6 linked regions of the Homo sapiens genome follow. The protein of the gene in region 1 purifies or fractionates together with the protein of each later gene. This does not show direct contact. Each region holds a gene or a part of one and is shown on either strand. Other genes may lie near its edges.

The links.
Region 2: the proteins of PTPRB (region 1) and RBM28 purify together in Homo sapiens (affinity purification with mass spectrometry; one large-scale study listed by BioGRID and IntAct). This does not show direct contact.
Region 3: the proteins of PTPRB (region 1) and DDX31 purify together in Homo sapiens (affinity purification with mass spectrometry; one large-scale study listed by BioGRID and IntAct). This does not show direct contact.
Region 4: the proteins of PTPRB (region 1) and HP1BP3 purify together in Homo sapiens (affinity purification with mass spectrometry; one large-scale study listed by BioGRID and IntAct). This does not show direct contact.
Region 5: the proteins of PTPRB (region 1) and RBM34 purify together in Homo sapiens (affinity purification with mass spectrometry; one large-scale study listed by BioGRID and IntAct). This does not show direct contact.
Region 6: the proteins of PTPRB (region 1) and NOC3L purify together in Homo sapiens (affinity purification with mass spectrometry; one large-scale study listed by BioGRID and IntAct). This does not show direct contact.

Annotation. Positions count from the first base shown.
Region 1 is NC_000012.12:70,630,930-70,634,429, reverse strand, and holds part of PTPRB (receptor-type tyrosine-protein phosphatase beta), read left to right. Parts: intron 1-3,500. UniProt on the Homo sapiens protein: Plays an important role in blood vessel remodeling and angiogenesis. Not necessary for the initial formation of blood vessels, but is essential for their maintenance and remodeling. Can induce dephosphorylation of TEK/TIE2, CDH5/VE-cadherin and KDR/VEGFR-2.
Region 2 is NC_000007.14:128,316,409-128,319,908, reverse strand, and holds part of RBM28 (RNA-binding protein 28), read left to right. Parts: intron 1-1,802; coding exon 1,803-1,952; intron 1,953-2,175; coding exon 2,176-2,250; intron 2,251-3,500. UniProt on the Homo sapiens protein: Nucleolar component of the spliceosomal ribonucleoprotein complexes.
Region 3 is NC_000009.12:132,659,984-132,663,483, forward strand, and holds part of DDX31 (ATP-dependent DNA helicase DDX31), read right to left. Parts: intron 3,435-3,500; exon of another isoform or gene 3,389-3,434; intron 3,344-3,388; exon of another isoform or gene 3,242-3,343; coding exon of another isoform or gene 3,239-3,241; intron 2,713-3,238; coding exon 2,456-2,712; intron 2,354-2,455; coding exon 2,278-2,353; intron 1,269-2,277; coding exon 1,225-1,268; intron 1,218-1,224; exon of another isoform or gene 984-1,217; intron 1-983. UniProt on the Homo sapiens protein: May have DNA helicase activity and RNA helicase activity. Probably have ssDNA and RNA dependent ATPase activity. Plays a role in ribosome biogenesis and TP53/p53 regulation through its interaction with NPM1.
Region 4 is NC_000001.11:20,777,308-20,780,807, reverse strand, and holds part of HP1BP3 (heterochromatin protein 1-binding protein 3), read left to right. Parts: intron 1-267; 5' UTR 268-367; coding exon 368-463; intron 464-896; coding exon 897-996; intron 997-3,500. UniProt on the Homo sapiens protein: Component of heterochromatin that maintains heterochromatin integrity during G1/S progression and regulates the duration of G1 phase to critically influence cell proliferative capacity.
Region 5 is NC_000001.11:235,147,751-235,151,250, reverse strand, and holds part of RBM34 (RNA-binding protein 34), read left to right. Parts: intron 1-2,803; coding exon 2,804-2,847; intron 2,848-3,500.
Region 6 is NC_000010.11:94,335,833-94,338,939, reverse strand, and holds part of NOC3L (nucleolar complex protein 3 homolog), read left to right. Parts: intron 1-203; coding exon 204-332; intron 333-1,065; coding exon 1,066-1,163; intron 1,164-3,107. UniProt on the Homo sapiens protein: May be required for adipogenesis.

The sequences.
Region 1 (3,500 bases):
ATTCTTTCCCACCATTTTTTCCTCTACAACCACCTCCAAGATTCTGTTTCAGGAAATCTGGATTTGTGCATAATACTTGATATTTATTAATCACCAGAAAATTTTGATCCATAATCCAATATGGAGATCAGCATCCACTGTATTGTTAAGTCTTTTCCTTAGGTGTTGATTTGTGAGGCTTATATTAGTCTTTCCACCATGGTAATCTTTGGACAATTTTTTCTCACTCATTCATTCTGTAAGTTAAAACAAGCATTTAACTAGATGCCATTTGAATGTGTTATGCTTTTCTACAATAAGTGGTATGCTTTGCTACAATAAAAGTTGAGAGTTATAGTTTCTGTTCTTATATCATTTCTGCCTATGAGAAAAAAACCTACTCAAAAATTCAACTTTATCAGAAAATATTCAGCATATAGCACCAATTTGTACAATACCTTTCCTGTGGTTCATCTATCAAGGCCTCTCCTAAATAATATAGAAACATTATAACTGTTCCATTTTTACTGTTTTACACAAGAAGTGAGATTCATCCCCAAACCCCAATCAAACCTTATTTAACATAAGATTACTTAGTTGGAACTTTAAAAAAAAGTAGATATGGACTCAGTGGTGAGTTATTCAAGATAAAAGATAATTCATAGAAAAACTACCTCCTATGACCCTCATACAAATATGTCTAGTAATAGACTTCGAAAATAAGGTAACTAGAATAAGCCATTTGCAATTAACCACTGAACAATGCTATATTCAAAAAATGCCTGATAATATGTGTTGGGGAAAGAAATTAATTTCTAGAAAAAGCAGAAGTTAAAATTTGCACAATTGTGGTACAAAAACACCCTTATATTTGAGTACACATAAGTATAACACATACTTTTGCTTTAACACAATTATAAGCTAACAGATATATTTTTCTGCTCCATCTTAAATATGCCATTGTGGGGTTTTTTCTTTTTGTTTTTGTTTTTTCTTTGGTTTTTGTTTTTAGAAACAAAGTCTTGCTCTGTTGCCCAGGCAGGAGAGCCATGGTGTGATCATAGCTCAATGTAGCCTCCAACTCCTGGGCTCAAGTGATCCTCCCACCTCAGCCTCCCAAAGTACTGGGATTACAGGCATGAATCACCATGCCCAGCCCTGATAAAAGTTTAAGAATAATACTTGTAGACCTATATCATGAGAGCTCACTGACTTGCTAGAGTAGCTACTGTGAAAAATTAACCGAAATGCATTCATATGTTTGCAATGAGTGATTTCAAATCATTGTTTAAGTTGGTAACTAAGTATTATAATCTACAGCAGCACAAATACATGTGTTGTTCATCTATGGGATGTGAATTTTTTTGTGTGTTCTTCCATGAAAGAAAGCAGACCTATGAAGGTAAAAATCTAAGCCACATGTTTCATATTTGTTTCATAAAAGACACATTAATGATTGTATTCAAGTTTCCAGGTAATATTTATTTAACACCTACTATGTGCCAGAGCTTGTGCTAGCACTCAGGTACCCTGTGCTAGTACTAAGGTGCCCTCCACAAGTGATTTTTGACCCAAGCTGCATATTAGACTCACATGGCAGCTTTTAACTAATACTAGAGTATAAAACCTGAGCTTTATCCTCTAAGCTGACTAAATGAGGTATTGTATTTTTAAAGTACTTCCTAGGTGATTCTGATGTGCAGCCAAGGTTGCAAATCATTAAATACATCTTATTCCTTAAAGTAATGGGGAAATCAGATAAGTAAATAAATAGGTAATTACAATAGAATGTAGAGAGAAGAAAGTACTTTCCTTTCCAATATATGTCCTTGCCAGTATGTCACATTAAGCACTCATTCCTTTTTTTTTTTTAATTATACTTTAAGTTCTAGGGTGCATGTGCACAATGTGCAGGTTTGTTACATAGGTATACGTGTGCCATGTTGGTTTGCTGCACTCATCAACTCGTCATTTACACTAGGCATTTCTCCCAGTGCTATCCTTCCCCCAGTCCCCCACCCCCCGACAGGACCCAGTGTGTGATGTCTCCTGCCCTGTGTCCAAGTGTTCTCGTTGTTCAATTTCCACCTATGAGTGGTACACGCGGTGTTTGGTTTTCTGTCCTTGTGATAGTTTGCTGAGAATGATGGTTTCCAGCTTCATCCATGTCCCTGCAAATGACATGAACTCATCATTTTTTATGGCTGCAATAGTATTCCATGGTGTATATGTGCCACATTTTCTTAATCTAGTCTACCATTGATGGACATTTGGGTTGGTTCCAAGTCTTTGCTATTGTGAATAGTGCCACAATAAATATACACGTGCATGTGTCTTTATAGTAGCTTGATTTATAATCCTTTGAGTATATACCCAGTAATGCAATCACTGGGTCAAATGGTATTTCTAGTTCTAGATCCTTGAAGAATCACCACACTGTCTTCCACAGTGGTTGAACTAGTTTACACTCCTACCAACAGTGTAAGTGTTCCAATTTCTCCACATCCTCTCCAGCATCTGTTGTTTCCTGACTTTTTAATGATTGCCATTCTAACTGGCAAGAGATGGTATCTCATTGTGGTTTTGATTTGCATTTCTCTGATGACCAGTGATGATAAGCATTTTTTCATGTGTCTGTTGGCTGCATAAATGTCTTCTTTTTAGAAGTGTCTGTTCATATCCTTTGCCCACTTTTTGATGGGGTTGTTTGTTTTTTTCTTGTAAATTTGTTTAAGTTCTTTGTAGATTCTGGATATTAGCCCTTTGTCATATGGGTAGATTGCAAAAATTTTCTCCCATTCTGTAGGTTGCCTGTTCACTCTGATGGTAGTTTCTTCTGCTGTGCAGAAGCTCTTTAGTTTAATTAGATCCCATTTGTCTATTTTGGCTTTTGTTGCCATTGCTTTTGGTGTTTTAGTCATGAGGTGTTTGCCCATGCCTATGTCCTGAATGGTATTGCCTAGGTTTTCTTCTAGGGTTTTTATGGTTTTAGGTCTAACATTTAAGTCTTTAATCCATCTTGAATTGATTTTTGTATAAGGTGTAAGGAAGGGATCCAGTTTCAGCTTTCTACATATGGCTAGCCAGTTTTCCCAGCTCCATTTATTAAATAGGGAATCCTTTCCCCATTGCTTGTTTTTGTCAGGTTTGTCAAAGATCAGATGGTTGTAGATGTGCGGTATTATTTCTGAGGGCTCTGTTCGGTTCCATTGGTCTATATCTCTGTTTTGGTACCAGTACCATGCTGTTTTGGTTACTGTAGCCTTGTAGTATGGTTTGAAGTCAGGTAGTGTGATGCCTCCAGCTTTGTTCTTTTTGCTTAGGATTGTCTTGGCTATGTGGGCTCTTTTTTGGTTCCATATGAACTTTAAAGTAGTTTTTTCCAATTCTGTGAAGAAAGTCATTGGTAGCTTGATGGGAATGGCATTGAATCTATAAATTACCTTGGGCAGTATGGCCATTTTCACGATATTGATTCTTCCTATCCATGAGCATGGAATGTTCTTCCATGTGTTTGTGTC
Region 2 (3,500 bases), on another chromosome or scaffold:
TAGAGACAGGGTTTTGTCATGTTGCCCAGGCTGGTCGCAAATTCCTGAGCTCAGATGATTCCCCTGCTTCGGCCTCCCACAGTGCTGGAATTATAACAGTGAACCACTGGGCCTGGCCTTGCATATCTCTGTCATACTGGTTACTATTACCCTGGCCTCAAACTGTCTGTCAGTCACTTCTCCCCACTAGACTGAGTTTTTGAGGCAAGCGTTATCTCATTATCCCCAATCCTTGGTGTAGTACCTGGTACATAGTCATCTCTTAGTCAATATTTATTTTAAAAGTACCATTGCCAATATTTTGGGCCTGCTTTACTCTGTTTCGCTACCATAAACTGTTTTCCTAATCCCTGAAAACCTCTTCAAAATGTATGGATTGGTATTTGGGAGATTACTTGAGAGAATGTGAATATATCAGCACATATCTGACACCACAGTTAGTAAAACTGCTCAGTGTTACTGGTTATAGGGGAGGGACAGTTGTGTAATTTCTCCTATCATCCGAATACTTAGTGCCTACATATTTAACACCTGTCATAATTTAGAGAAATTTATGTTTATTCTAGAATATTTTGCATTATGTTGAATTTTCCTCTTAATTCTTTCCTATTTGTATGTATAGTGTCTCAGTAAGATGGTAAGCATCTTGAGAACAGGATCTTCATTATATGCTTCTCTTGATTCCCTTACAGTGTATGACAGTTCTAGGCACAGAGTGGACACTGGACATAAACTAAATGCGGCATCCATGCATCCCCAATACTTAGCTGTTTCCATTACATGAGAACGACAGCTTTGGTAGTAATGGCATGTAAATGATCAGTTTTCTCGAAAAATCCTACCATACTTTGGTGCCCCAGATGTTTACTACATCTGGCTTAAGGATTTAAGGGAAAACCACACTAGAGAGGATCTGAGCTGCAAGCAAAGAGAGCTGAAACTTCTTCCTATATTTCTGACCCTGTATGTTGGAGAGACTTTTTCCTATGCTTGAAATGTCTTTCTTATCTAAAGCCATCAGGCCTTCCTCCTTTCCTTCTTCAATAATTTCCTTCCTGAGGGCTTTTTTCAGTTGTAAGATCTGTGGACAGTACTCCATCCTCGGCAGCAACTTGTTACACGCTTAAAATACCATGTACCTCTCAATTTGTATGTATCGCAAACAGTTGTGTTTGTATTGTGTTTGTTTTTTAACATCCATACCGCTTTATAAATTTTCTTTAGGAAGTTTTGTTTATGTGCTTTTTTTTAGGTCTCTGTTGATGTCTATAAGCTAGTAGAAAGCAAGAAAATACAATTTTAATCTGTTTGATGGTCTTAGTAGGTAAATTCTAATAAGATGGACACACATAAGTGTTATTCCAGTGTGATTTTTGTGATGGTGGTATAAATGAAGATTATGTTTCAATAACCTGATTTTTTTTTTTTTTTTTTGAGACAGGGTCTCACTCTGTTGCCCAGGCTGGAGTGCAGTGGTGCCATCATGGCTCACTGTAACTTCAACCTCCCCGGGCTCAGGTGATCCTCCTGCTTCAGCCTCTTGAGTAGCTGAGGTGCCACCACACTGGCTAATTTTTTGTATTTTTTGTAGAGACAAGGTTTTGCCATGTTGCCTAGGCTGGTCTCAAACTCCTGGCCTCAAGCAATCCTCCTGTCTCGGCCTCCCAAGGTGCTAGGATTACAGGCATGAACCACCATGCCCACCCAATAGCCTGATTTCTTATTGACTCTATTAAAGCAGTTCATGTCAGGCAAGTCTTCTCATTCTGTAATTACTGATTTTTTTCTTGCTCTACTCATAGTGTAGAGTGATGCGAGACCTCAAAGGAGTTCATGGGAACATGAAGGGTCAGTCCCTGGGCTACGCCTTTGCGGAGTTCCAAGAGCACGAGCATGCCCTGAAAGCCCTCCGCCTCATCAACAACAATCCAGAAATCTTTGGGCCTCTGAAGGTAGGCCTTGTCCTCTGGGGAGACTTGTTCCCTTAGGACCACTTGCAGGAAACCAGCCTTCTCCTTTATGCCTAGTGTCCTCTGACATTTGAGGGGTGGGAAACAGTGGCAAGTGGACAAAAAAAAGGTGGGTTGGGGGAGGATGTGTGAAGGGGAAAAACTCAGCTCATTGCATGCACAGATTAAGAAGTCTAATGAATGGCATTCTGTCTCCCTCTGACAGAGACCAATAGTGGAGTTCTCTTTAGAAGATCGAAGAAAACTTAAAATGAAGGAATTAAGGATCCAGCGCAGCTTGGTACAGAAATTAAATGGTCCATATTTTTAAGGACATAAACTCTTCTATTTTGTTCAATTTGTGCTTCTGCTCTCTTAGAGTAGTTCTCCCCTCAGTTAGGTTTTTTTGCTCCTAGTTCCCTTTACTCCCAGTTCCCTAAGCCTCTCCAGGCCATCTTCTTATCTGCTGGCCCATGTCTGATAGCTCTACAGCAGAAGGGAAAGGAAGGAGAGAGGAAGCAGACCAATGTTATTTCCAGTCAGCCGTTTTTTACAGTGTTTGGTGATAGTACGTGCCAAAATTAATGGTTGAGGTTAAGGTTTCCCATTACCTGTAGATTTCAGTTATCTCTTCCATATTTTCTTTTATTAGTTGGCTCCAGAAGTGTGAAGCCTGATAGTTTTAGTACTGTTTTTAATCTGGTGTGGTATAGAAGGTGGAGCAGGGACTTTAGGAATACGTGTACTCATGCTCATACTCTGGCTCTGCCCTTTTTGCTGCATGTTCCTTGGCAGTTATTACCGCTCTGAACTTCAGTTTGTAAAATGGGGTGGACAACATCTGCCTCACATGATTGCTGAGGACTAAATGAGATAATACATGTCCATCGTCTAGCATACTGCATGGTCAGCACGCAGTCAGTACTCATTCTCTTACCCATCTTCCCCCAGGACATACAGGGCCAGATTATTCTTGACTCTGTCATTCTTAGAGCTCTCATTGATATTGCACAGCAAAGTTCCCTTGCATATACAGCAAACATTTGTAGTCTTTGTGGTATATACCAAGAGGATTACCAACAGACGAGCCATTCTGGTGGTTAATGCAGTGGCCCTAGGTTGGAAAATCTGGGATCTGGTTATTGTTCAAGGCAACTTTGTTCCCCAGATAATAGAATTGTTTATTACTGTTAGCCATTGTTTCAGAGGTGATTCTGAAGCTACCAGTTTTGTTTGTTTTTCTGTTTGAGATGGAGTCTTGCTGTGTCGCTCAGTTTGGAGTGCAGTGGCACAATCTCAGTTCACTGCAACCTCCACCTTCTGGGTTCAAGTGATTCTCTTGCCTCAGCCTCCTGAGTAGCTGGGACTACAGGTGCACACCACCATACCCGGCTAATTTTTGTATTTTTTTAGTAGAGACAGGGTTTCACCATGTTGGCCAGGCTGGTCTCGAACTCCTGACTTCAAGTGATCCACCTGCCTCAGCCTCCCAAAGTGCTGGGATTACAGGCGTGAGTCACTGAGCCCAGCCTAGTTTGTTTTTTAACATCC
Region 3 (3,500 bases), on another chromosome or scaffold:
CCTGAAAATGGTGAGGCAAACCAGAGACTGGCCATTCTATTAAACTAATTCTTTTAAAAATGGGACAGGCAGCCGACTGCAGTGGCTCACACCTGTAATCCCTGCACTTTGGGAAGCTGAGGTGGGTGGATCACCTGAGGTAAGGAGTTTGACCAGCCTGGCCAACATGATGAAACCCCATCTCTACTAAAAATACAAAAAATTAGCTGGGAGTGATGGCACGCACTTGTAATCCCAGCTACTCAGGAGGTTGAGGCAGGAGAATCGCTTGAACCTGGGAGGCAGAGATTGTAGTGAGCCAAGATCGCACCACTGCACTCCAGCCTGGGCAACAAGAGCAAAACTCCGTCTCAAAAAAAAAAAAAAAAAGAAAAAGAAACAGGCATGACAACAAATCAGAGTTACCACCAAGTGTATCACACACTCTTGCCCTCACTAACAGGAATATGAAACACAACGAAACATAATGGAAAGGTTTCCATGCAGGATAGCAGGAGGAAGCTCGCCAACTATTCAGAGAGCCAGCAGCAGCTGTCCATTCTCCAGGAAAAGGTTATGGACATGCTGAAATGTGTGTCTACACATGTATTTTAAAACAAGAAACAAAAGAGACACAAAAATCACTTAAATTTGGTTGATAAAAAACTTGTGGGGAGGTCCCTTAATTTGGACTTTAATATTCCTATTAATTTTTACTAGTAAAAGTAAAAAATCATTATGAAAATGCACAGAAGCACAAATACTCAAAACAAGGAAGCTCATCTCCTCGCACCTATTTTACTTCTTTATTTTCCAGGAGTCATTCCCTGTAACAAACATTGAAAACATTTTTTCAGTATCCCACTCTATCCAACTGAACATTTACTCTTGTCTTTTTGGTTGACCCTAATTCTTACTACTAAGAAACGACATGGTCACATGCTATATTTTGGCCAAATTCTTTTCAGGGAAGCACAGAAAACAGCGGCGCTCATGCAGCCCACCTTCTGGATGAGACGTCTCTTGCGGTTCAGAGCCAAGGGCAGAACTGGATGGAAAGCCAGTCTTTCCATTTAACAGGTGGAGAGAATGAGTAGCTAAGTGAGACGACAACCCTTTATGGTCGATAACCTGGCACTGTGTTCCAACGCCAAGACACAAATTTGCTCTGCCTTGCACACACAGGTTTCGTCCGGTTATACCCACGTAATGCCTAAGAAATCAAGAGGAGCCTGAAGTTCTTACCTGGTCATACTAGACATTTTTAAGACCGTATTTATTGTGGAAATCTAAAAGAGGAGATGAAAAAGCTTTAATTAATATTTTGATACAAAATATTTAACGGAAATTACACAAGAAAGGAGAAACTATTGAGAGAACATTGACTACTATGATCAAATTAAGTTCCTCCACCCAGGTGGTGCTCTCTACTTGGGGCGATTCTGCCACCCGCCCTAACTCCCTGGGGACACAGGGCAAAGTCTGGAAAAATTTGTGCTTGTTATAACCAGGGGAGGGGGGCACTGCTGGCATCTAGTGGGTAGAGGCCTGGGATGCTGCTGAACATCCTACAGTGCACAGGACAGTCCCCAAAACTAAGACTGACCTAGTCCAAAATGTCCACAGCACCAAGGCTGAGAAACCCTGATCCACCCCCCAGGTGAGAAAACAAGTTTAGGTAACCCACCCTACAGAAGGGGTAGTAAGCTGTAACCGAAAGTGCAGAGGAAACCAAGCCTGCCTAAAAGTTAATATATTTTTTTCTTCTTACTCATGAGTCTGGAGAACTCACTTTTTTTCCTTTAAAGTGTCCATTTGTTTGTAGAACACACACCAAAATACTCTTCTTCCCTTACTTCTCTAAAACTGTGGACGTCCTTTAACAGCAAGATGCCAGCACAGTTCCCTCTCCTATGGCCACTGTGACATCTGCCACCACAAATGGCTTCACCACTACAACTATCCAGTAAATAGGGAGCTGTTTTAAGTTTAGCAAGTGATGTCCTGACCCTAAATCACGTTAGTCGAGGAAAGTCTTCAATACTTAAAAAAACACACACACAAAAACACAAAAAAACAGAGGATGGGGGAAGGGGGGGCCAGAAAACAGTGAACAGTAACCTAAGCACCCTTGAACTGTCCTAGAAGAGTATCATATCAATCTGAGTTCATTCAGGTAACTTAGAGCAGAAACAAACACTCTCTGATCTCTCCTCCTAGAGCGGCCATTTCACAGACCTTCTGAACGGACAAACACACCAAAAAAAACTGACCCAGAAAACACTGAAAGGTACTTACTAAATGTGGGTGGAGGCCCAGCTCATGAAAAGCAGCTGAAGTAAACACTTTTTCTTGCACCTGCTTTACCACAGGTCTGCAAATGATGAACAAGAACCCAGGCATCAGTGCCAATATTAACAAAGAAAAGGCAGAACACATTTTTTTCTTCCTGAAGGGCATCCGCCCCTGGACATACCTGTGGAGTTCTGGAATGTCAGGGTTGTTTTTAAACAGTGATGAAGTCTTAATGCACTGTCTCTCCTCCTGGTTTCTATCACTTGTGCTAACCGAATGCTTCTTTGGAGAAAACATTTTTTGTGCGTTCCCCTTAAAAGTCCTCTGAGTTTCTTTAACACTAGTTTTCTTGGCTGGGAGAAATGAAGTTTCGTTCCTCCGTTTCGCTGGGGGAGCCTCACTGGACGCTTGGTATTTTCTTTTCGTAGCCTTTGCTTGCTGCGTTGTTCCCAGAAGGAAAGATCAACAAGAGATGCATTAGTCCATGAAAACAGAGCTCGGAGTGAAGCCTGACTGCCCACAGAATTGCATCTCTCCCTGCAGAGATCATTATGCCCCATATGTCAAGCAACAGTTTAGGGTTTGCAATCAGACTCTTTGACTCAGCTTCTTCCAAAAGGTAAAGAAAAGAAAAAAGAAAAAAGTCTCAGCTCACTCATCTACCAGACCTCACCAGCCATTCTTAACTGTTAAATCAATCAAGATAAGGTAAGGATGAAGAAGCAGCATTTTTCCAGTTGAATGTTAACTAATGGAGTCTGTTTTAAGGGAAGCAAGAATCCACCTTGTGAAGGGTGTGTCAATCCATATTCCTAGGAACCCATTCACCCAAGGAGAAAAGAGGGGTGGGGGAAAACGAATCTTTTCTCTCCACCAACAAAGCACACTGGAGACCGCACAGGAGAGAGGGGCGAGGGGGAATGCGCATCTCAGCCCGTGCCCAGGAAGCGGAAACATTCATTACCATTCTACCCTAGCGCCTGGATCTCTCTCATTCTCTCCTCTCAAGCTGCTCCTCCAGATTCAGACGGCCTGGAGAAAATTCCTACGCCCTGTTCCCATTCCAAATGAGAATGCTGCTCCATCCATCACCTCTACCACAATTACTTCCTACCTCCCTTGCCTTTCGAGTCTCTGAGTCCCCGAGTCTCTGCCTGATTGCGGATTACAGGCTACACAGCACTAGGGATCTCTTGCCTGTTGCTTCTTATTTCCATTACAGGAAT
Region 4 (3,500 bases), on another chromosome or scaffold:
GTTAGGTTCCTTAGGAGCTTCCTTGCCCTTGTTGTCTTTGTTCATGTGGAAGGTGCAACAGCTGCCGTGGCTTATGCATTCGTCTTAGTTGCTGCTTTATGTAGTCTATATTTTGGTAGTTTTATCTTTCTGAGTAACCAAATCATCTGTCACTTACCTATAAATTTTATAGTTATATTTTTTCCCTTTGGATGTGTATTAAATTTAGACGTTTTAGTTTAGTTTTGTTTCTGTTAATCTTCACACCAGGTCTTTTCTGTGCTTTAGGTTGATTCTTCACCACACTGAAACCATTAGGAAAAATCCTTGTGGTTAACAGCAGAGGCTTCAGAGTGTAACCTGTACTCGGGCCTAGAAATTATTTAAAATGGCGACTGATACGTCTCAAGGTGAACTCGTCCATCCTAAGGCACTCCCACTTATAGTAGGAGCTCAGCTGATCCACGCGGACAAGTTAGGTGAGGTAGGGGCTGACACATTCTTGAAGCTCACTCTTGGATCAATCCCTGACTTCAGGCCCTGCTGGGTCCTTCTTGGTACATGTTCCTTCCCTTACTTTGGGGAGTCTAGGTTGTGAATTTGAAACAAAATCAGATTCTTTTCATCTTCCCTTTCCCCTCAAATTCCTGAGAAAACCTCCAACCTTCTAAATTTATAGCAAATCAACTATAATTATGTGTTTCCATTTGAAATTCAAGCTAAAATAACATACTTTAAAAAGTGTATCTTAAAAATCATATTTCACTTCAAAAAAAACTTGTTAAAAGTAATTTGCATCAGATCCTGGAGTCGACTTGAAGAATTCTCCTACATCTGACACCCAGTTAGGCCCTTTGAGAAAGAGAGAAAAGAGAATTTTTTAATGCATGTTTGATTATGGCCATCTCTTTTCTTAGAAGGTAGAAGATAGCACCATGCCGATTCGTCGAACTGTGAATTCTACCCGGGAAACTCCTCCCAAAAGCAAGCTTGCTGAAGGGGAGGAAGAAAAGCCAGGTAAAGTAAAATGGTGACACAGCTTAAAACATCAAAAGTTATACTGCAATTTGGAGTGTCCCATAAATTCCTTTGAACTTAATTGTTTTTTTTTTTTTTTCATGGCTAAGTGTTTTGGGGAAACATTTAGAGAGAATCAGTAGCTATTGGTATGTCATTGCCAGACCATGAGGGCAAAGTAAGGTTTCATCTTCTCTATAAAGGTTTTTGGAAGGTGAAAATGTTATGTTGGAATTAAAAACAAAAATGTTTGGGGATGACAGGAATGGCCAGAGAGTAGCATTCTGGACATAAAGTGTCATGGGGATCAGTGCAGTGTGGGAGAATGGAAAACGTGGGCCTTTAGAATAGACAGTGGAAGGTTCATCCAGAAATCATCTGGAGGCCTTCAGAGAAGCAAATGGTGATCTGTTGATCTATAACAGGTATTGGTAGAGAGAAGATTGGCCAGTCAGTGGTGGGAGCATAACAAATGGAAAGAAACATAGACCCATCAACATGGAGTACTAATGCTCCTTTATGGCATGTATAACCACCTCTTCTCCTTTTCCCGTCTTTATTTTTCTTCTCATGATCTTTTTGGTTTTTTTCCTTATCTTTTCCCTTTTTTCCTTTCTCTCTTGCCTTTTATCTCAGGTTTTTCAGGGATAAGCACACTGTGCTGCCTCTGTTGTGGCTGTTAGAATCAATTATTTGCTGACCAGCATGTATTAGGAATAGAGGGCCGGGCACAGTGGCTCACACCTGTAATCCCAGCACTTTGGGAGGCCAAGGAGGGCAGATCACCTGAGGTCAGGAGTTCGAGACCAGCCTGGCCATCATGGTGAAACCCCATCTCTACTAAAATTATAAACATTATCTGGGCATGGTGGTGCATGCCTGTAATCCCTGCTACTCAGGAGGCTGAGGCACAAGAATTGCTTGAGCCCAGGAGGCAGAGGTTGCAGTGAGCTGAGATCACGCCATTGTATTCCAGCCTGGGCAACAGAGGGAAACTGTCTCCAAAAAAAAGAAAAAAAAAAAAAAGAGGAGTAGAAAATACATGCATCCTTGGTGCATCAGGGCAGACATCAATAACCAGTCAATATACTCTTTTCTGGCTGAGCCTGGATTTTTTCTCTAAATCCTTAGATGAATGCTATAAGCAATTTGGGCACCCTGGCCTAAGGCAGTTAAGAAACACGGGAATCCAAATATTTAAAAAAGTAAACGGGTGCTGGTAAGTTGAAGATAGGTTATCTTGTCCAGCACTGGGATAAGCCACTTGGTGGTCCATCTTAATCCATGTTTAACAGCCAGCTGAAGCCACTAAATCACTAATAACATCAGTTTTCAGAATATATGCCAGAGGGTTCAGATGTAAAGTATTAGAAAACTCAACCAGAAGTTTATGAAGAAACAGTGTCACTTCACAAGTTGTATGTTTGTTTAATCTTCTCTCTATCCCATTTTGTACACAGTATTTTGTACATAGAAATTAGACTTCACTTATTTTAAATTTTGTAAACTCTATGTTTTACACAGAAACACAGTAGTTTAATGAGTTGGAAACAGTCTTATACATAATACATATTCAATATCTGTTGAGTGACTGAACTTTATTAAGCCATAACTCTTGAGCAGTTATTCTTGAGAAGAGAAAATAATGTAAATTTATAAGTCTTACTACCGTAAAACCCCTGAATGATTCTTAGCTTTTCATCTTTTTTAGAATAAGACAAAGTGTAAATAAACATGACTAACTAATAGTAAATTCTTGCCCATGCAGCCATTTAGGTCAAATTGTTGGGTTGAGGGGCAGTAAAAGATATATCATGATGAAAAATACATTTTATTGTGGAAAACCTAAATGTAGTTATTATCTTTATCCCCAGATACCATTGTTATAGTGAAGTTCTATCCATAATACTTTGTCATCCTAAGCATATGGGAAACAATTCTAGAAGCAGAGAATTCCAAAGGAGGATGGAAATCACTCGCTTAGTATAAGTGTTAGAATTGTACTTATGTGATTTGGTTTTAAGAAAGAAGTGGCATTTTAAAATTCTCTTTATAGCTGGGCGCGGTGGCTCACGCCTGTAATCCCAGAATTTTGGGAGGCTGAGGCGGGTGGATCACGAGGTCAGGAGATCGAGACCATCCTGGCTAACACAATGAAACCCTGTCACTACTAAAAATACAAAAAATCAGCTGGGCATGGCGGCACGCACCTGTAGTCCCAGCTACTAGGGAGGCTGAGGCAGGAGAATCGCTTGAACCTGGGGAGGTGGAAGTTGCAGTGAGCCAAGATTGCGCCACAGCACTCTAGCCTGGGAGACAGAGCGAGACTCCGTCTCAAAAAAAAAATAAATAAATAAATAAAATTCTCTTTATGGGAAGGCCACAAAGAAGTCCTCGTCATTATTGCAATAATTAGTTCACATAATTTAAATGATCAAATTCTTCAAGCATATACTTTGGCTTGAAGTATATGCTTGCCACTGGAGTCCTTTTTCTTTCATGTT
Region 5 (3,500 bases), on another chromosome or scaffold:
GCTGCAGGTTTTGTGGTTGCCTTTGACTCTTCATTGGCTCACCCATGCTAGTGTTTGCCACTCCTGTCCGTTTTTCAACTGTGATTTCTTCCTAATATGAGTCATTCCTTTCTTTTTTCCTTGTCCTACCTAAGTTCTCATTACCTCCTGTCAGAATAGTCGCAGAGGCCTATTGTAGTTCCTTACCTTCAGTCTTCCTCTAATTTGTCCAACAAAACACTGTGAACTCAGTCTTCCTGAAGCTCTTCTTCCCGGAACCCTTACCTCTTTCCCTGCCTTGCATTAATGAAACGCCCTTCCCCCCATCCCCCCAGCCGCCACACACACACCCCTCACGGGGCCTGCTATTGCCTTCTCCCCTTTGGGGAGCCTACCTTGATTCTCCCCAGTCTCTAGGCTACCAGTGTGTCCCTGCTATGCATTTGACAGCACCCATCCCTCATTACAGTACTTAGTACACTCTACTGAAATTGTCGTTTGCCTCCTCCACCAGACTGTAAGCTGTGGTTACAAATACTCTGTCTTACTTCTTCTTGGGTTACCAGCACCTGTACATTGTGTTAATTATTCTGTCAGTGAAATACATCCTTAATTCTTAGCTTGGCAGTTCTCCAGTGTGGCCCTGCCTCTCCTGTGTTCCTCTACACGTGGGTTTTCTCACCTTTGTCCCTTTGCCAGTCCATTTGTTTTGCCTGGAATCCTTCCTTAAAGTACCATTTTTGCCTATGAAAGTATTTTTCAGTATGTGGCTAAAAATGTCCCTTCTTCAAAGCTTTTCCGATACTTTATATCATTAAGTGATATTTTTTCCTCTGCATTATTCCTGTACTTTATTGCCTTATGTTGTACTTATGTATTAATATCTTTAATGACAGGATGTAGGCCGGGTGCAGTGGTTGATGCCTGTAACCCAGCACTTTGGGAGGCCAAGGCAGATCACTTGAGTTCAGAAGTTCGAGACCAGCCTGGCCAACATGGCAAAACTACGTTTCTACTAAAAATACGAAAACTAGCTGGGCATGGTGGCGGGGGCCTGTAATCCCAGCTACTCGGGAGGCTGAGATGGGAGAATCGCTTGAACCTGAGAGGCGGAAGTTGCAGTGAGCCGAGATTGTGCCACTGCACTCCAGCCTGGGCGACAAAGCGAGATTCTGTCTCAAAAACAAACAAAATAAAACAAAACCAAACAAATAACGGGACGTAGACGCTGTACAGAAGGCACCCAATAAATGTGTTTTGATGATGTCATTCACATGTTGATTATTCATTTAGCCATTTCTGTGTCTTGTACTGTTTTTTTGAGGTTTGAGAGTTTGACTATGTTAGCAATTTTAGCAAGATAAACTGCAAACAGAAGAAATAGTTAAAATTTCATAGTTTTACTATGTAAACTATCAGGTTACTGAGAAAGAAAATAGGTTTTCCAGAAAAGATTTATAATAACTACCCTACATGGCATTTATGTTCTAGATTGTGAACTTGCAGGGTTGGTATCTTTTCACCTTGATCTTCTCAGTACCTGGTTGCATTTGGCATGTTGTCGACAGCTGTAGTTGTTGACGTGTATTTCTGCCTCTTCCATAAAGTTTTCCCTACCTGCCCCATCCACTCTTAAAGGAGGCTATATATGACTGGAAATAAAGTGAACCTGAATATAAAGGGGATTCCCTTACCTGCATGATGGACACCATGCATTTTTTTGGCTAATATATAAACTCTTAGAGATACAGGTGATATGTCTTTTTATATTATTCATCAGTTCAGTTAGACATATTTAAAAATTTATTAGAATACACGATAAAATGTTAATTTATAAACATTTCTTTTTCCTTAACATTTTTCCTTTTTTTTTTTTTTTTTTTGAGACGGAGTCTCGTTCTGTCGCCCAGGCTGGAGTGCAGTGGTGCCATCTGGGCTCACTGCAAGCTCCGCCTCCCGGGTTCACGCCATTCTCCTGCCTCAGCCTCCTGAGTAGCTGGGACTACAGGCGCCCGCCACCACGTCTGGCTAATTTTTTTGTATTTCTAGTAGAGATGGGGTTTCACCGTGTTAGCCAGGATGGTCTCAACCTCCTGACCTCGTGATCCGCCCGCCTTGGCCTCCCAAAGTGCTGGGATTACAGGTGTGAGCCACCGCGCCCGGCCTTTTCCTTACATTTTTCATGTGTCTTTCATCGTCGGTGTCTCTTCCTGGAGTCCTCCCTGTAGGAGTCATCTGATGCAATTTGAGAGCCCGGTATCTTAACTTCTGTCTGGGTTTTTGAGTCCCTGCCTGTTAAATCTGAGCATGATGGTTTCATTGGAAAAACTTATCCTAAGCCACGAGCTTCGTTTCATATAGCATTAAGATGATTGGCCAGCCGTGGTGGCTCATGTTTGTAATCCCAGCACTTTGGGAGGCCAAGGTGGGCGGATCACGAGGTCAGGAGATCGAGACCATCCTGGCTAACCTGATGAAACCGCATCTCTACTAAAAATACAAAAAATTAGCCGGGCGTGGTGGCGGGCGCCTGTAGTCCCAGCTACTCAGGAGGCTGAGGCAGGAGAATGTTGTGAACCCAGCAGGTGGAGCTTGCAATGAGCCGACATCATGCCACTGCACTCCAGCCTGGGTGACAGTGTGAGACTCCATCTCAACAGGAAAAAAAAAAAAAAATTAGGACAGTTGTTTCTGATTTGTTTATTTCCCTAGAATGTTTTTGATCACAGTGTACTGGAGTTAGATACTTAGACTTCACTTAAAATATTAATTTGAGGTAATACTTCAAATACTGTCTTTAATACTTTTTTTTTTCTCTTGAAAGATTCCAGCAGAGGGAACGCTATCCAAAAAGTTGGCAGCAATAAAGTAAGTTTATAATTAGAGAAAGGGAGTCACCTTAAACTTTCTTCCTTTTTGGCTAAAAAGTGAGACCATTTCTTAACAATTGCATAGATTTTATTAATATATTTGGATAATAGAGCATGATTGACTGTTTGCTTCTGTATTTGAGAGCCTTTAGATTTGTCACGTTTTTCTTTAAGCCATAATATAATTTACAGAGTCGTAGAAAATATTACTGGAAAATGAGCCATGAGAAATTTTAAGAATGTTTTTAGTGTTTGGAAGAGAGTGTAAAGCTTCATGCCTAAATTTTCTCATACAGATTACAAATGCCATATTTCCTGTGTTTTTCCAGAGAGAATTCATGTTTGCTTGTGCTGGTCACCTGGGTATACTGCCAGCCTGTGACCACTTGGCGTTCTCTGTTTGAGGGTTTTGGACCACACTGGTGGTGGCTTGTTACCAGTGCTCAGGGGATTTTTTTTGTTTCCCACTCAGTGTCAAGAATGAAACCTACAAGTCTCCTTGTTCGCCCTTCCATATGGAAGGCTTATTTTTCATTTACCTTCAGCTTTATGCCGGTTTCCTATTAGTCTCATATCTTGGGTGTTTTTCTCTCTTAATGGTATATGAAATGATGAAGTTTATAAGCAGATATTTCTTTATATTAGATAAAA
Region 6 (3,107 bases), on another chromosome or scaffold:
CAAGCAAAGATAAAATTTTTTTTTGCAACTCTTGTTCTTACTATATAAACTTAAATTGTTTTTTATTAAATCTAGGTGTAAAGACTTTATGCAAAGCTCTTATACAACCATAAATTTAAATGCAAATACAACTACAAACCAGTAACACCTCTTATATTAACAATGTTAATTTAACCAATTCTTTTTATGTGACATTTTTGCAGACTTTCCCCAAAACAGATCTACTGCTTGACAGTGAATCTCAGGGAAGTGGAGTTTTCCTTCCTGAACTGGATGAGCCTGAGTACTGCAATGCTCAGAACACTGCTCTGTGGGAACTGCATGCTCTGCGGGTAAGAGTGGCCCTGGTTTTTTTCTTTTTGGGGATGTTTGTGAATAATTGTTTTCCAGTTTTTCTTCAAATAGTTGTTATTGCCAGAGTACTTAATTATATTTTGTTCTGGGGCTGCCTTTTTTAGAATTCCTGTGTTAGTATGCTACATTTTACTTTGCTGTTACTATTCTTTAAGCTGTTGAGGTACATTTTCTAAGGAAGCAGAAAACAGTGTCAGTTCTGTAGGGTGCAGTTGTGGAAGATTTACTGAAACCTTTCCCTTTATTGAAATCTTTCCCTAACACTCTTCAGAGGATTTGTTATCAGGTACATTTCTGTTGAGTCTTATCCAAGGAGACTTTAGTAAGCCCTGTTTCAAGATGGTTTCACCTATGCAGTGATCCTACAGTATGGACAGCATTAGAGTGAGACTTGTAGAAAATAGAAGTGGCAGGTAACCTGTTGTAAATTAACTTTTTTCACTCTGAAAGAGGAATTGCTTTTTGATTTTTCTATTTATATTGTAAAAGCAAGACTAAACTACTTCACTGGTAACTTGATTTGTGTTTTAATCCTATTAGCAAAGATAATATTCTTTCTGTGGGTATGTGCTTCTAATGAATTACATATACTGTACATAGGTGATGAAAAAAAATTTGGTGTAATTTTATTTAAGAAAATCTTTGCTGTGGCTAGTGTTTTTTGTAAAGGACTGACCTGTGCAGAATGTGATTGTCCCGTTTTCCCTTCAGAGGCATTATCATCCCATAGTGCAGAGATTTGCAGCCCACCTGATCGCTGGAGCACCTTCTGAAGGCTCTGGAGCACTCAAACCAGAGTTGAGTCGAAGGTAATATTTAGCATTGCCTTATTCTAAAACTACAGAATTGAGCTGATAGCCACTTACTATGAGAAGACTGTTTCATAAAGTAACATACTACAAAATGTAAAGTGCCAGTTGGGTATCTGGATTGGTCTTGCTTCATATTCCTGAATTGTTCTGAAAGAAAACATGCTATGATTTTGTTGATCACTTAAAACATTTTTTTTCTTCTTCTGTCATTCAACTTGAAAAACATTTTTTTAATCGTGAAAAGTTTCGCACATACAGGATAGTAGAATGGCATAGTGAATGTCCATATGCCCCCCATCACTCAGGTTCAACAATGAATAATCTATGGCTATAGGTGCTTCATGTGAAGATAAAACACAAGTCAACCAAATTAAGCTTCCTTGCTTTCTCGCTCGCTCGGTCTTTTTTTTTTTTTTGAATGGCCCTGTTAGGGCAGGATGAGGAGAAAAAAAAAATGAGGAGAGGGAAGAAAAGAGGTGCTTTGGAACACTGCCATCCAGAAGGGCAGCTTTTTCTTTTTTTGGCCCTTGCAGAGTACCTTCTGACCTATAAGCAGCTTGGATGGGTACTTCCAGCATCTACCTCACACCCAGATGGGGAAAAGGTCCTCCTAAAAGAGTCTTCTTTTCCCTGAACTGTTTACTTACAAAATTTTCACAAGTACAGAAAGGTGAAAAATAGTAATTACTTTTTTTTTTTTTTTTTGAGATGGAGTCTCACTCTGTTGTCCAGGCTGGAGTGCAATGGCGCAATTTCGGCTCACTGCAACCTCCGCCTCCCGGGTTCAAGCGATTCTCCTGCCTCAGCTTCCCGAGTAGCTGGGATTACAGGCACCCGCCACCATGCCCAGCTAATTTTTGTAATTTTTGTAGAGATGGGGTTTCACCATGCTGGCCAGGCTGGTCTCGAACTCCTGACCTCAGGTAATCCACCTACCTTGGCCTCCTAAAGTGTTGGGATTACAGGCGTGAGCCACTGTGCCCAGCCAGTAATTACCTTTTTTTAAATACAGACAGGAAATACTTAAGTTATACAGAGAAAGAGAGAAAATGGTATAAAAAATCCCTCAGTCCATTTATGGTGCCATAAAAAATGCCTAAGACTGGGTAACTTATAAACAACAGAGGGCCAGGCTCAGTGGCTCACGCCTGTAATCCCAGCACTTTGGGAGGCCGATGCGGGTGGATCACCTGAGGTCAGGAGTTCAGGACTAGCCTGGCCAACATGGTGAAACCCCATCTCTACTAAAAATACAAAAATTAGCCAGGCGTGGTGGTGGGTTCCTGTAGTCCCAGCTACTTGGGAAGCTGAGGCAGGAGAATTGCTTGAACCCGGGAGGCGGAGATTGCAGTGAGTCGAGATCTCGCCATTGCACTCCAGCCTGGGTGACAAGAGCGAATCCGTCTGAAAAAAAAAAAACAGAAATTTATTTTCTCAGAATTCTGGAGGCTGGGAAGTTGAAGATCAAGGTGCTGGTAGGTTTGGTTGACTGATGAGGGCGCCTCTCTGCTTCTGAGATGGCATCTTGTTGCTGCATCTTCTGGAGGGGAGGAACCCCATGCCCTCACATGGCAGACAGGACAGAATGGGAGCAGTGCCACAGCTTCACTTCATGAAGCCTCTTCTATAAAGACTTTAACCCATTTATGCCAGAGGTTGCAAATTTTTTTTGTGTGTGAAAAATCAGACCTTGGCGATGACCTTGAGCAGTAGGATATAAATAACTCCTACAAGCTTAGTGTTCTGATAATGGAACACTAGTAGGCATAAATGGGTTAATCCCATTCATGGCTTAATCACCTTTTAAAGCTTTTGCCTCTTAATACCATCACATTGACTGTTAAGTTTCCGTATCTGAATTTTGGAGGGGACACATTGAAACTATAGCACCTTACAATGTACTCATTACCCAGAATTAATATTTTGCTGTAGGTTTTTTCC